2 linked regions of the Homo sapiens genome follow. The protein of the gene in region 2 interacts with the protein of the main gene of each other region in a biochemical or structural test. Each region holds a gene or a part of one and is shown on either strand. Other genes may lie near its edges.

Region 1 (7,566 bases), on a different chromosome or scaffold from region 2:
AAGCAACAAACTGGTCAAAAAATGTATCTGTATCATTGAGAGATCATTTCCCATTACTAGAAACACAAATAAATCGGTGCCTACCAATGCTGGTTTGAGGCCACCATTTCCTCATAAGGAGGTGGACTGATTTCATTTAACCTAAAAGCAGTTTGGATATTTAGTCCCACCAGCACAAGCTACATATAAATTGAAAAAAATCTCATGCACATAGCTAGACATGAAATATTTTCTTTCCTCCTGTGAATCCTTATACCAAGTAATGATTAAAATTTAGCTGTAAACTTGATACATAGGAGGCACAATTTTAAAAAAATTAAGAAATGGATGATGATAGGTCTTTTGTTAGACAATTCATTGAAAATTCAACTTCCCCTAAAATTCAACGTTCAGTGCTGGGTAAAAAAGGCATGCAACCAAGTTACCAGCCTCCTCAAGCAGGACACAAGGAACACATTGGCTGCAGAAAACACACCGTAGCAGTTATAGGTTTCATGCCAACAAACCAATGATTAACAAGGATGATTAGAGTCTGGATGGAGCCAAGACACAAGCTCTTTGCCTTTCTGATGCTGACTCAAAAGCCACAAGCACACACATTTCCCCATGGCAGGTTCATACCAGCGGACTTCAGTTGCTTATGTCTCTCTTGTTCCTGGATTGTAGACTTTGGCAAAAGTGGAGTAAGTCCTCGGGACTTGGTGGGTCTCATGTAGCCTTTCATTGGTTCTGCCATTCTGCTTTTATCTTCCTTTTTCCCTTCTCCTGGTGTCTTTGATTCAGATTTTTCTGTCATTTTCTGAGGTGTCTCCAAAATCTTATCTTTGGGTTCTGGGAGTCGAACACCCTTGGAAGCAGTCATTATTACTAACGTATCCGCCACCTCTGAAGGAGGAGCTTCGACTTTGCTATGTAAGAAATCTGACTGGATTTCTGGTGTTGGCAAGGAAACGCTTTCCAATTCCGTGATTTTACAAGCCAGACTAATTTCTTTCAATTTATCATTTTCACTTTTTGGAGACAAAAGAGTCAGATCTACCTTCTTATTCAAACTATCTGAACCTTTGGAATTTCTATCTTGAGCATTTTGGTCCTCACAAAAACTGAGCTTTTGTGCTTTGTCTTCCAGTAAGTCAGGAATCTGAACTGCAACAGACCCTTCTTTAGTCTCTTTCTCTTCATTCACTGGATGTGCTGGGAAATTACCTCTATCTGCATATCCTTCTAGGGCTCTGGCCTCTCCTGGTAGGCTCTGGTCTTCTACTGGCACTCCAGGAAGGAGGTGACCTTTTGCTAGCTCTGTGACTTTCTCTACTGAATGCTTAGACGCACCACTGTGCACTGACTCAGATTCTCCTATCACATGCCCTTCATCGATCCCTGCTTCATTTTTCATGGAATCAGCAAGCTCAGCTTTATTCTTAAGAGAGTGATCTCCATGAATGTTAACTGTTTCTATGGCTGTTGTAATAGGTAGAGCAACTCCTCCTGTGCTTGTAGAGGGCACAACAGCAGAGGGACCCTTGGGTCTTTCTTGACCTGGGACTCCATCTTTGGTGTAGTTATCTACCATTAATGATTTGGAAATCTGGGCTGGGGCTATCTCTTGCCCATTTTTTGCCAAGGTATCTGGAAAGGAATCACCTTCCTTTACTACTTGAGGAGTAGGAGTGGGCAGTTTTTCACAGGCTGCTGATTCCAGAACCTCTAGAGGAGATGATTTATTTATCAGCTCTGATGGTGTTCTGGGACAGGTAAATGTAATATTTCTATTTTCGTCCATATAGGCCATTCCTTCAATTCCCTGGTCCCCTGTGGTTTCCATGGGAACATGTATTTTTGTTGCATCTATCTTATTCTCCAGAATGTGCTTCTCAGGAGAACTATTTTTAACCTTTTTACTTTTTCCATCATTACTCCTTTTACTTGGTTTGTCAGCCACTGCAGTGTATCTATTGGCTGCATCTGTCTTATTCTCCTCAGATACTACTGAAGGAACAAATCCTGCCCCCTGGATTTGCTCTTGGCAGCTCACATCTGTCACCTTGGCAGGTGGTTCAGTAACAGTAGAAGCCTTGACTGTGCTTATCTTGTTTTCCCCAAGAGTCCCAAGCTCAACAAAATTAACCTGAAAATTTCCACCCTTCCTGTCAACTGCTTCCACTGTGGGTGTATCTGGTGTATGTGAGAACGAAGAATCATGCATTTTGGGGAAAGTAAATCCTATTTCCTTGCTTTTATGGGGAATACTACCAGTATCTCCATCCTTCCCTTCAAAAGGTGGGTTAAGGATTTCTTCCTTCCTCTCCATTCTAGCAGGCTGTGTGGAATAATTATTTTTAAACTTTTTGCTTTTGCCTTCATTGCCTCTCTTTTTAGGCTTTTCAGAAATCCAGGGAGCTGCCTCATGATCCTTCCATGGACACCTTCCTTCCTTGCTCTGGTTATTGACACCCATATCTTTGACTACATCTCCTGTTTCTGTGCTAACACCAGAAGTCTGAGTCATGCCTGATCCACTTTCCAAAGGAATCAATGCCTGCATGGTGCCTGCCACCTTAGGCTGAGTCATCTCTTTAGGCTCCCCCATCACCACTGCCTCCGTGAGATCAGCCTTAGTGCCTGGTTGCTTTGAAGAATTCAGCCCCAGCTCCTCACTCTTATCCTGAGTAGTCATTCCTTCAGTTTTAGAGACTGGCTCACTCGGTATGAGAACAGCCCTTCCGTCCTTCTGGCTGTCCAGAAGAAATGGCAGCTCAGATTTTGCTTTTACCTTCCCAGAATCTGTTCTCATTTTCCCAGAACTTCCCCTTCCCTTCCTGCTTTTGCCATCACCTGCCATTCTCTTAAATGGTTCATTCTCTACCCCAGGGACCTGTACCAACACTTGGCCCTGCAGCTGCTCAGAAGTAAAGATGCTGATCTCTTGTCTTTCGTTGGGAAAAGCTTCCTTTTTTAGTTCTTTATCCTCTTCAGCTCCTTCAGGAAACTCCTTCAGTTTGACATTCTGCAGTTTAGTCATTTTACTTTCATTATTCCCTTCTTTTAGATTACATTCTAATGGATTACTTGCTATCAAAGTGGGTACCAAATTTGGTATTTCTTTTGCTGCTGTGGGTTTTGAAACTACACCCATAACCTCTTGGTCCAAGAAAGGAGAGCAACCCTCTTTAAGTCTGATATCCAAAGGGGTTTCTACATTGTATGCAGAAACTTCTGCTAGGGGTCCTTTCAGATTGAGAGGGCCTACTGACTGGCTTTTATCTACAGGAGTCTTCAGGTGGGGTGCAGGCTGTGGTTTGTATTCATGTTGCTTCAGCAATTTCTTGTCTTGGTTTTGTAGTACTGACTTGTTACTTTTGCTCTCTTCCTCTACTCTCAGCTTAGACTGAGAACTTATTGCAGTTTTGGGGGCTTCTTCAGAAGGATATAAAGGAATTCTGAGACTCTCTGAGACAAAGTTCTCAGCTACCAGTCTGGCTGCACTGGAGTTAACTAAACATTCCCTTTTCAAGTTTTCTCCAGATACAAGTCCATATTCTGTACCCATAGTGGTAGGCTGGCTGGGGAGAACACCTGATTTTTGTGTGTCAGCTGCAAATGGATGACCTTTAGGCTTATCTGCATTGTCATCATCCGAAGGTCCTCCAGCCCGTGGTTGAGAATATCTCTTTTGCTTTGGTTTCTTCTTCTTTTTCTTCATCATTATTGGTGTGCTTTCTATATCCCAGGCCTCCCTGCCAAGATCCCTCTGGGGTTCAAGTGAGTCAACATGAATACTTTTTCTTTGGTTCCCAGGCCCACCACAGGAGGATGAACCAGAGACCCAACCTGACTCAGACAAAGAGCAGTGGCCCAGCCTGTGATCAAGAGTCTTCCATGGAGGAGAGCCTCCCAGCAGCTCAGGAGGGACCCTGGCAGGCTTGGGCCGGGTTGACCTGCGGTCACTGGGTCTGCAAACTTGTTTGGCTTGTGTGGGAGGGGTACCGCAATACATGAAGTTGGCTAAAATTCCAAACAAAAAACTCCTCGTTATTGTTTCTTAAAAACAACAAAAAACAAACAAACAAACAAAAAAACCAGACCATATAAATGACTAATTTAAGGAGGCTATTTTCACTAATACATATAGTACTTACTGTAATTTGCTCAGGAAAACAGTCTTTTCTAAAACATTTCTCACTTTTAACTGGCGCTAGCAAAAATATTTAACAGATCATCATCTCAGGTAAAGATTGTTTTCAAACATTTATAAAATATTTGAAATTTCAGAAGTAGCAGGATTGAACTTTTAAAAATGAAACATTTCACATCTTTTAACCTCTAAAAATAAGCACTTACTGCCTGTAAATCTCATCTGATTTATATTGGTCATTCTTAGTGCTTGCCTCTTTTTGGTGAAATTTATTAATTGCTTCAGTTAAATATACATGATTTTGGACAAAATTTATAATTCTAAGACTAGGTCACCAATATTAAACTAATACTTGTCAAACAAACCAGACAGATTCTGGGAACTAGATCAGAAGGCCAGACTTAAGTCACTTCACGCACACACACAAAATATACTGAATCCACATTTTGGTCAGAGAAAAATTCTCATGATTCCAGAACCAGAGCATCCTACTTTGAAAGACAAATATGTTAAATTTCAACATTCTGCTCCTAAATGTACTTCCCAAAAGACAGAGAAATATATATAATGTTAAGTAGGATAATTAATTTTAACAATTAAGATGAGTACCTTTGGAAGAGTTTCAGCAGGTGATCTGGTCTAACCTTCCTCCCAGTTAATATAATATGGATCCAAGATCCTGGCAAGAGTCTCATTAAGAGCAGGTATATGCCAGCTCCTGTCAAGTCTGACCCAATAAATTGATTTCCAAGAATATTATAATATGTAAATAGTGGATTTCATTCTTGTCCTTACCCCTCCAATATCCTCTAAATCCTAGCCTTTGTTTAATATCTCAGGTTAATTATTGCATCGCTCAAAAAATTGCTAGGCTATAGTATCCCCCAGTATTTATAACATTTAATTCAGCAATTAATCAGCAGCTATTCAGTGCCATCTTTTATACTATTTTATTCAATTATTATGTAAATCTTGGGTTTCAGAGTTCATGCCTGAGAACTTATCTCTTCATTCAGGTTATAATATAATAATTCAGGGGGCAAGGACGGGGACTTAAATATCTATATGCCTTAACATGGTGTATTTTGTATACCATAAGCACTTGATAAATCTTTACTGATTTGTTGAGTCAGTAAAACAACATTTAAAAAAAAAATCACACATTTATTTAAGCTCTAGTCTTGTGCTAGGTAGTGTGCAAAGCATTAGAGATTCTAAGTGAAATAAGTCATGGGCCCTTATGTCCCATATGTCAGGATGTCCACATTCCAATCATAGTCACAGAAAAGTAAACAGAAAATCAAGTTGATAATCATATACATATGCTTCTGGGTTATTAAAAACAGGTAATCTTCAAATTCACTGAATAATCAAACTTTAAATTGGAAAGTATCTTAGAGCAGTACCTCTCAAAGTTTAATGAAAATTAGAATTATCTGGGGATCTAATTAAAATGCAGATAATAATTACAAAGGCCTAAGGTAGAGCCCAAGATTCTGCATTTCTACCAGCCTCTCAGGTAATGTAGATGCTGTTGGGCCATGGAACACTGTAACTAGTAAGACTTTAGAGAACATTTGACCAATTAATTTATATTATAGCTAAGTAAACTGAGATATAGGCAAGTTATGTAACTTGCTTAAGACCACACAGGATAGAATAGTGAATAGCTGAACCAGATCAAAATTTGGGTGTCCTTTCTTCACTATGAAAACAGTGGAGAAGGCCAGGCACGGTCGCTCACGCCTGTAATCCCAACACTTTGGGAGGCTGAGGTGGGCAGATCACCAGAGGTCAGGAGTTTGAGACCAGCCTGGCCAACATGGTGAAACCTCATCTCTACTAAAAATTAGCCGGGCATGGTGGCAGGCGCCTGTAATCCCAGCTACTCAGGAGGCTGAGGCAGGAGAATCGCTTGAACCCAGTAGGTGGAGGATGCAGTGAGCCAAGATCACGCCATTGCACGCCAGCCTGGGCGACAGAGTGAGACTCTGTCTCAAAAAAAAAAAAACAACGACAACAACAACAAAAAAAACAGTGGAGAAAAAAAAAATTAGGTATCCTGATTTGCTGTAGTAGTAATTTTTAAAGATATAACAAGCTGACATTCTGTCTAAACCAGATAAAATCTGTCTAAGAGAATTGACTTCATAAACTATACTGCTGATTACCACCATACAACAGGGAACTAGAGACAATGTCTACCATCACTACTCTATCGCCCCTAATTTGTTTCAAAGAGTTCATTTTGTTTTCCTAACTTACCTGAGGTCTCTGAAGAAAGCTCAGAAGGTTGACTGTTGCATGGTTTCCTTTCCCCTAGTTTTTCTAACACAGAATCCTCCTCGGCCGGCAAGCTGCACTTTTTCCCCGTTCCTGTGACGGTTTCTAAAGGTAATAACAAAAGCCACACACGTTTCAGAGAAGCATGATTTCAGCTATTTTCCATCTGCCAGAAATTGGATATGGGATTAGTTTCTGAGGAGTTCTCCTACAAGGGGCAGCAAAGGAGTGAAGTGGTAGTTGGAAGCTGAAGTTGGGAAGGTATGTCTAGTTATGTTACTTTTTTTTTTTTTTTTGAGATGGAGTTTTTCACTCTTTGTTGCTCAGGCTGGAGTGCAATGGTGCGATCTCGGCTCACCACAACCTCCGTCTCCCAGGTTCAAGTGATTCTCCTGCCTCAGCCTCCCGAGTAGCTGGGATTACAGGCATGCGCCACCATGCCCGGCTAATTTTGTATTTTTAGTGGAGACGGGGTTTCTCCATGTTGGTCAGGCTAGTCTTGAATTCCCGACCTCAGGTGATCCGCCCACCTCGGCCGCCCAAAGTGCTGGGATTACAGGTGTGAGCCACCATGCCCGGTCAATGTTTCGTTTTTTAAGATGGGAAAAATAACAAACGTTTGTTAAATGGGTGGGAATGATCCAATGAAAAAAGATTTAAATTGGTATGAGGGGCAAAAAAGGGAAGAATACATGGGGCAATATATCGAGTAGGAAAGAGGAGATGGAATCTAGGGCAAAATGAGGAGAGGTTGGTCTTAATTAGGAGCAGGAACAGTTTACTTATAAAAACGGGAACTTTCATAAGCAGAGACCATGGATACAGATACAAGTAGTTGGGTAGATAATGGAATAGAAGTTTGTCGATGTTCTATTTTATTGCTTGACTTATCTGCAAGAAAAACAGGACAATCAGCAGAGAATGAACATAGAAAAGGTGTTGGAGGTGGGAGGAGGGTAAAGGCGGGAAAGAGTTGTCTAGGAGAGCAGGAGTATGAATAAACTTGCAAAGTACAGTGTGACTGTCTGTACTTTACCTGGCATGATGTTTGTCCTTAGTCTTCTCGAGACTACAACCTGGTAGAGAGAAATACTGAGAATAAGCACAAGCACGTACCTGGTGAAATCATGAAAGTAGGTGCAGCTGAC
Region 2 (8,133 bases):
GCAATCTTGGCTCACCGCGACCTCCACCTCTCAGGTTCAAGGGATTCTCCTGCCTCAGCCTCCCGAATATCTGGGATTACAGGCATGCGTCACCATGCCTGGCTAATTTTGTATTTTTAGTAGAGACGGGGTTTCTCCATGTTGGCCAAGCTGGTCTTGAACGCCCAACATCAGGTGATCCGCCTGCCTGAGCCTCCCAAGGTGCTGGGATTACAGGCATGAGCCACCGCACCCAGTCTGCAGTAAAACTTTTATTTTATTTTTAAAACAGAGATGGGGCCAGGTCCCTCTCAGAAACCCCTGGAACCAGATCCACATATAGGGAACCATGTGTTCTTCATGGAAGAGAGAGCCCCTTAGCTTTCCTCATATTCTCACGAATGTGTTTTTAAAAATTTTATCAAACACTTTTTATGCCAGTATTGAGACGATCATATGGTTTCTCTTCTTTAATCTGAGAATGTGGTGAAGTACATGAATAAATTGTCAAAGGGAAAAGAACTTTGCATTCCTGAGATAAAGCCAGTTTCGTCATCACACAGCTTTCTTTAATTGATTTGCCAGGTTCTGTTTGTTAATATTTTGTATAAGATTTTTATACCTATGTTCACCAGATTGGCCTGTAATTTTGTTTCTTGTCTGGTTTTGCTCTTAAGGACAAACTAGCGCGTAAAAATCAGTCAGGCAGTGGCAGTTCTTTCTTTAGTCTCTGGAAGAACTGGCATAAAATGTGAACATCTGGTAGGATTTGCCTGTAAGACCATCGGGGCCCGGTGTCTTTTGCGTGTATGGTGTAGACAGCGTGAGGGCAGGGGAGAGTCCATCCAAGGCAGGATAATTCATTCCAATCATTTCTCTGAAGTTGAAGGAGGGGTGGGGAAATCATGAAATCACCCACCATTCCTTTTCCTCTAAGTGAGTTAGAGACCTCATATCTAGGCTGCAAAGCCTGTGTGGGCCCTTTTTGCAATAATGTCACCATACTCAGCACAGATGCCTGCTCTGGAAGAGGTGGTGGGGAGAGTGAGGCTGTGTGTAACTGAGAATACAACATAAATAAACCTGCTGTGTTCTCCAGATCACAGGAAGATTTCAAGGAACCAAAGTCCACCCTTAAAACAGAGAGGCAGCTCAGGTTTATTTATTTTTTATTTTTAATTTATTTACTATTTATTTATTTATTTATTTATTTTTTGAGATGGTCTTGCTCTGTCACCCAGGCTGGAGTGCAGTGGCACAATCTCGGCTCACTGCGGCCTTCGCCTCCTGGGTTCCAGTGATTCTCCTGCCTCAGCCTTCCAGGTAGCTGGGCTTACAGGCACGCACCACCACACCCAGCTAATTTTTGTATTTTTTTTTCAGTAAAGATGGGGTTTTGCCATGTTGGCCAGGCTGGTCTCGAACTCCTGACCTCAGGTGATCCACCTGCCTCGGCCTCCCAAAGCGCTGTGTTTGTTGGTATGAGCCACTGCACTCGGCCAATTTTTTTTTTTTTTTTTTGAGACAAAGTCTCGGTCTTGTTGCCCAGGCGGAATACAGTGGCACCATCTTGGCTCATTGCAACCTCTGCCTCCTGGGCTCAAGCAATTCTCCTGCCTCAGCCTCCCAAGTAGCTGAAATTACAGGTGCCTGCTATCACACCAAGCTAATCTTTATATTTTTAGTAGAGACGGGGTTTTACCATGTTGGCCAGGCTGGTCTTGAACTCCTGACCTCAGGTGATCCACTTGCCTTGGCCTCCCAAAGTGCTGGGACTATAGGAGTGAGCCACCGCGCACGGCCTTTTAATTTTTTTATTTTTTTGAGACAGAGTCTCACTCTGTCACCCAGGCTGGAGTGCAGTGGCATGATCTCGGCTCACTGAAACCTCCGCCTCCTGGGTTCAAGCGATTCTCCTGGCTCAGCCTACTGAGCAGCTGAGATTATAGGCATGTGCCACCACGCCCAGCTAATTTTTGTATTTTTAATAGAGACAGGGTTTCATCATGTTGGTCAGGCTGGTCTCGAACTCCTGACCTCAAGCAATCCACCTGCCTCAGCTTCCCAAAGTACTGGGATTACAGGCGTAAGCCACCATGCCCAGCCCTCTTTTATTTTATTTTATTTTTATTTTTTGAGATAGGGTCTCACTCTGTTACCCAGGCTGGAGTGCAGTGGTGAGGTCACACCTCACCGCAGCCTCAAACTCCTGAGCTCAAGCGATCCTCCCGCCTCAGCCTCCCAAGTAGCTGGGACCACAGGCACACACCACCGCACCCAGCTAATTTTTAAAAAATTTTACTTATTTTTTAGTGGAGACAAAGTGTTGCTATGTTGCCCAGGCTGGTCTCAAACTCCTGAGCTCAAGGAATCCTCCTGCCTTGGCCTTTCAAAGTGCTGGGATTACACGTGTGAGCCAATGCATCCGGCCACAGCTCAGGTTTATCTACAAAAGCCACATGCATCCTTAGCAACGCACACATTGGACTGCCTGTGATCTGAGATTTCCCGGCAATTTCAGGGATACATGAAATTAGTTCTCTTTTCCCATGGGGGTGGTTCTGGGAACATCAGAGATATTGTGACCTGTCCCATAGAGAGTCGGGAACTTACCTGAGGCCACAAAGCAAACCCAGGGCCAATCCTGACCTCTATCAACATACACCGAAGACCTGGTCCCACAGGGACCTGCCCCGAGCCCCACCCTGTGCCCATACTCACCTCCCGACCAGTGAGGATGTGCCGAGCCAGCTTGACTTTGGCAAAGTTGCCCTTCCCAATGGTCCTCAGCAGGCGGTAGTTGCCCACGTGGGGCTGCTCCTCGGGACAGGAGGCGATGGAGTTCCGGCAACGGGCACCCAGTGAGCGGCTGGACCAGGACGGGCCTTTGTCCGAGGAGCGGCCACTGCCCAAGGTGCCATGCTGGGCGGGGGAGATGGAGCATGAGCTATCCAATCCCACCTTCCGTGGAACCCGTGGGCTAGTGCACTTAACTTGAGGCCTGGCTACCGGCCCCTCCGTGGCCCTTTTCAAACTCAGGCCCCAGAGAGCCAAGCATCCTTCATCTTTCTCTACAAAAAGACGCCTCCAGGAACAAAAGCCCCCATGTCCTCCAAATCTGCAACATTCAGGGCCCCAGGCATCACACCCCTTCTTCAACCCTCACTGCAGTCTGACTACCCCCAACCTCCTTGTCTTTTTTTTTTTCCTTCGGATGGAGTCTTCCTCTGTCACCCAGGCTGGAGTGCAGTGGCACGATCTCAGCTCACTGCAACCTCTGCCTCCCGGGTTCAAGCCATTTTCCTGCCTCAGCCTCCCGAGCAGCTGGGATTACAGGCGTGCACCATCATGCCTGGCTAATTTCTGTATTTTTAGTAGAGACGGGGTTTCACCATGTTGACTAAGCTGGTCTCAAACCCCTGACTCAGGTGATCCACCTGCCTCGGCTGTACGGATTACAGATGTGAGCCACCGCATCCAGCCCCAACCTCCTTTTCTAATTACACACATACCTCAGAGATATCGCAAGTTTGGTTCCAGACCACCGCAATAAAGCAAATACTGCAAAAAAGCAATGCACATGAATCTTTTGGATTCCCAGTGCATATAAAAATTATGGGCCAGGTGGCCAGGTGCAGTGGCTCAGGCCTGTAATCCCAGCACTTTGGGAGGCTGAGGTGGGTGGATCATGAGGTCAGGAGTTCGAGACCAGCCTGGCCAATATGGTGAAAACCCCATCTCTACTAAAAAAATACAAAAATTAGCCAGGCATTGGCACACGCCTGTAATCCCAGCTACTCTGGAGGCTGAGGCAGGAGAATCACTTGAACCTGGGAGGCAGAGGTTGTAGTGAGCCGAGATCGCTCTACTGCACTCTAGCCAGAGTGATAGAGTGAGACTTGGTCTAAAAAAAAAAAAAAAAGGCCAGGCATGGTGGCTCACACCTGTAATTCCAGCACTTTGGGAGGCCGAGGCGGGCAGATCACGAGGTCAGGAGATTGAGACCATCCTGGCTAACAAGGTGAAACCCCATCTCTACTAAAAATACAAAAAATTAGCCAGGCGTGGCAGTATGCGCCTGTAGTCCCAGCTACTTGGGAGGCTGAGGCAGGAGAATGGCATGAACCCAGGAGGTGGAGCTTGCAGTGAGCCGAGATCGCGCCGCTGCACTCCAGCCTGGGTGACAGAGCGAGACTCTGTCTCAAAAAAAAAAAAAAAAAATATTATGGGCCAGGCGAGGTGGCTCACGCCTGTAATCCCAGCACTTTGGGAGGCCAAGGCAGGTGGATCACCTGAGGTCAGAGTGTGAAACTTGCCTGGCCAACACGGGGAAACCCCGTCTCTACTAAAAATACAAAAATTAGCCGGACATGGTGACGCGCACCTGTAATCCCAGCTACTCAGGAGGCTGAGGCAGGAGAATCACTTGAACCAGGGAGGCAGAGGTTGCAGTGAGCTGAGATCGCGCCACTGCACTACAGTCTGGGTGACAGAGTGGGACTCCATCTCAAAAAAAAAAAAAAAAAAGAGAAAGAAAAATTGTGTTTACATCATACTGCAGTCTACTGAGTGTGCAATAATAGCATTACAGCTATAAAAACAATGTACATACTTTAATTTTATAATACTTTCTTGTTAAAAGATGCTAACAATCATCTGAACCTTCAGTGAATCACAATAAAACAAAATCATTGACAAGGCGGGAGGATCGCTTGAAGCCAGGGAGTTTGAGACCAGCCTGGGCAATGAAGCGAGACACCCATCTCTAGAAAAACTTAAAAAAAAAAAATTAGCTAGGCATGGTGGCATATGCCTATAGTCCCAGCTACTCAGGGGGCTGAGATGGGAAGATCGCTTGAGCCCCAGGAGGTTAAGGCTGCAGTGAGCTATGATCATGCCACTGCACTCCAGCCTGGGCAACAGAGCAAGACCCTGTCTCTAAAAAAAAAAGAGGAAAAACATCACTGATATCAGATCACCATAACAGCTATTATAATAATGATGAAAAAGTTTGAAATACTGTGTGAATTACCAAAATGTGACAGAGACACAAATTGTGCACAGGCTGTTGGAAAAATGGAGCCTACAGGCTTGCTCAACACAGGGTCGTCAGAAACCTTCAATTTGTAGAAAACACTGTATCTGTGAAGCTCAATAAGGCAAAGTGCGAAAAAGCAGGATATGCCTGTCCTGGAGCCTGGATCAACTCTACAATATTTTGCCCTAAATGAGGCTGCCCTCAACCCCAATCAACGCTGACCTCAATCTGGACTCGAGGCTCCTCCTCCACCACCACTGGTCCTGACTTGCTATTTTACCCATCAACTGTCCCCTCTCCAGCCCCCAAATTCTACTTCAAACCCAAATGTCAACATTTGATTCCCAGTGGAATGCCCCTAACATTTGATTCCAATCACTGTTACCCCAGATTGGACTCCAAACATTGTAACCAAGTCTTATTTTTTTTCTTTTTGACACAGAGTTTCACTCTTGTTGCCCAAGCTGGAGTGCAGTGGCCCAGTCTGGCTCACTGCAACCTCTGCCTCCTGGGTTCAAGCGATTCTCCTGCCTCAGCTTTCCCGAGTAGCTGGGATTACAGGCATGTGCCACCACACCTGGTTAATTTTGTATTTTTAGTAGAGACGAGGTTTCATCATGTTGGCCAGGTTGGTCTTGAACTCCTGACCTCAGGTGATCCACCCACCTCGGCCTCCCAAAGTGCTGGCATTACAGGCCTGAGCCACCACCCCCTGCAGGGTAACCAAGTCTTTCACTGGCCCTGAGACCTGGTTGAATCCCTGTTATCCTCCTTCCATGGGAAACACTGTTGCTTCTGCCACCCCCTGAAACACCCAGGGCTTGAGAAGCGCCCTGACTTGCTGTCTCCCACACCATGGCTTCTCTCCTCCTGATGTTCTGTTCCTACTGTCCTGTCCCTCCCTGGCCTCTCTCCCCCGCAGGTCACCTGCCTGCTCTGAGCTGCCCTGGCCTGATTGGAAGCCCCAGGGACTGTCTCCCTTTCAGGGCTGGGGCTCAGGGTGCCTGAGGCCTCCCGCCAAGGCAGTTCTGCCTGTGCCCTTCCGGCTGGGAGTGGGAAGCAGGAGGACAACAGGAGGGGAGGAAGAAAGGCCAAGAGGCTGATGGGCTGGGGGCCCAAGTCTCTGAGAAAGACACTGCCGGGCCACTTGATAGCAACGACAACTAACGTTTAATTAATGCTGGTCATTGATGCAATATGAGGCCATTACCACACTATTATCTCCATTTTACAGGTGGGGAAAGTGAGACCCGGACCCACGATCTGAACCCAAACAGTTTCCACCAGTATTTTTTTTTTTTTTTTTTTTTTTTGGCAGAGTTTCACTCTTGTTGCCCAGGCTGGAGTGCAATGGCACGATCTCAACTCACTGCAACCTCCACCTCCTGGGTTCAAGCAATTCTCCTGCCTCAGCCTCCCGAGTGGCTGGGATTACAGACGCCCGCCACCACAACCGTCTAATTTTTGTATTTTTAGTAAAGAGGGGGTTTCACCATGTTGGCCAGGCTGGTCTTGAACTCCTGACCTCAGGTGATCTGCCCACCTCGGCCTCCCAAAGTGCTGGGATTACAGGCATGAGCCACCGTGCCCGATAGTTTCCACCAGACTTGATGCTCTTCTCTGTCACAATACCACACTGCCTCTCACACCTGAACCTTTTTTTTTTTTTTGAGACAGGGCCTTGCTCTGTTACCCAGGCTGAAGTGCAGTGGTGTAATCAAGGCTCACTGGAGCCTCAACTGCCTGGGTTCAAGCAAATCCTCCCATCTCAGGCTCCTGAGTAGCTGGGACCACAGGAGTGCACCACCACACACAGCTGATTTTTAAATTTTTTTGTAGAGATGGAGTCTTGCTATGTTGTCCGGGCTAGTCTTCAGCTCCCAGGCTCAAGCCATCCTCCTGCCTGGGTCTCCCAAAGTTCTGGGATTATAGGTGTGAGCTACCACGCTGGGTCATGAACCATTTCTACAAAGCAGCTCATGCTATGGACCAAGTCCTGTGTAAACAGGTAACTCGCCTACACTTAATTCCTGCAGTAGCCCAGGGAATGACTCCATGTTCCAGCAGAGAAACTGAGCCTTGGAGAGGGAAGGTGCCATGTGAAGGTCACACAGTCCATTCACAGGGGCAGAAAGACAACCTCCCCACAGCTGGGCAGTTCCAACCACCACGGCCAGGGCTCTAACCACGCGTCCGCCACTGCCTGCCGTGCCCTCACCCTGGCCTCCAATGTGGGTCCAATTATGATCTGCAGTCTTCAGACGGGGACACCCAGGCTCAGGCAGGGGGAGTCCCTCCCCCAAGGTCACAGGGCAGATGGAGCAGAGTGCTGGGATGCGAACCCCGGCCTGCTGATTCCTCCTGAGTGCTGAGCCAGGCTTCCCCACAGGCCCAGGCTTCTTCCCAGGAGAGACCAGGGAGGCAGGTGGAGATCCTGGAGATAAGGCCTCCGATCCCCACCAAGATAAGGACCTGGAGAAGAAGCCCTGTCAGGTGGCGCCAGGGCAGCCAGCTGGAGGTGGGATGGCACCACGCTGAAGGCAGCATGGCTGAGGGACCCCTGCGAGGGGCAGCTGGGGCAGTGGGTGACAAAGCCCCTGGGGGCCGGGGGTGGGAGCTAAAATTGGCCTGCACCACCAGCTGGCCTGGCTCCCTCCCGCCCGGCTGGCGCCCCAACACCCGGGACTGTTGCTAGGGAACCTGGGGAGGCTGGCCCCCTGGTGGGGGGCCCTGGAACTTGGGGTGGGGGAGCATGACCCCACGTGGCTGTAGCCATGGTAACCAGGTAACAGGAGAGGGGGCTGCAACCTCCCATTCCAGAGGCAGGCAAGTGACTCCCCACCAGGACTGACAGGCAGGTCTTAGTGACAAGAGTTGGAGGAGAGAAAAGGGGATTAGCCATCCTCAAATCCGCACCATGCACGCATCTTAACAACCCAGGGAACAGCAAGTCTTCATTAGGCGTTCCACTTAACAGACAAGGAAACCAAGGCTCAGAGAGGTAAGGTTACTTGCCCGAGGTCACACAGCTAGGGAGGGACAGAAACAGGATGTGAACCCAAGTTTATCTGAACAATTAAAGTAGTGCTAATAACCACAACAGCCACGACACATGC

What was found.
Region 1: of the proteins of MARK4 (region 2) and MAP4, one has a biochemical effect on the other in vitro, tested with the Homo sapiens proteins (one study listed by BioGRID).

The regions. Positions count from the first base shown.
Region 1 is NC_000003.12:47,908,417-47,915,982, forward strand, and holds part of MAP4 (microtubule-associated protein 4), read right to left. Parts: coding exon 7,535-7,566; intron 6,524-7,534; coding exon 6,401-6,523; intron 4,006-6,400; coding exon 622-4,005; intron 1-621. UniProt on the Homo sapiens protein: Non-neuronal microtubule-associated protein. Promotes microtubule assembly.
Region 2 is NC_000019.10:45,253,757-45,261,889, reverse strand, and holds part of MARK4 (MAP/microtubule affinity-regulating kinase 4), read right to left. Parts: intron 2,902-8,133; coding exon 2,701-2,901; intron 1-2,700. UniProt on the Homo sapiens protein: Serine/threonine-protein kinase. Phosphorylates the microtubule-associated protein MAPT/TAU. Also phosphorylates the microtubule-associated proteins MAP2 and MAP4.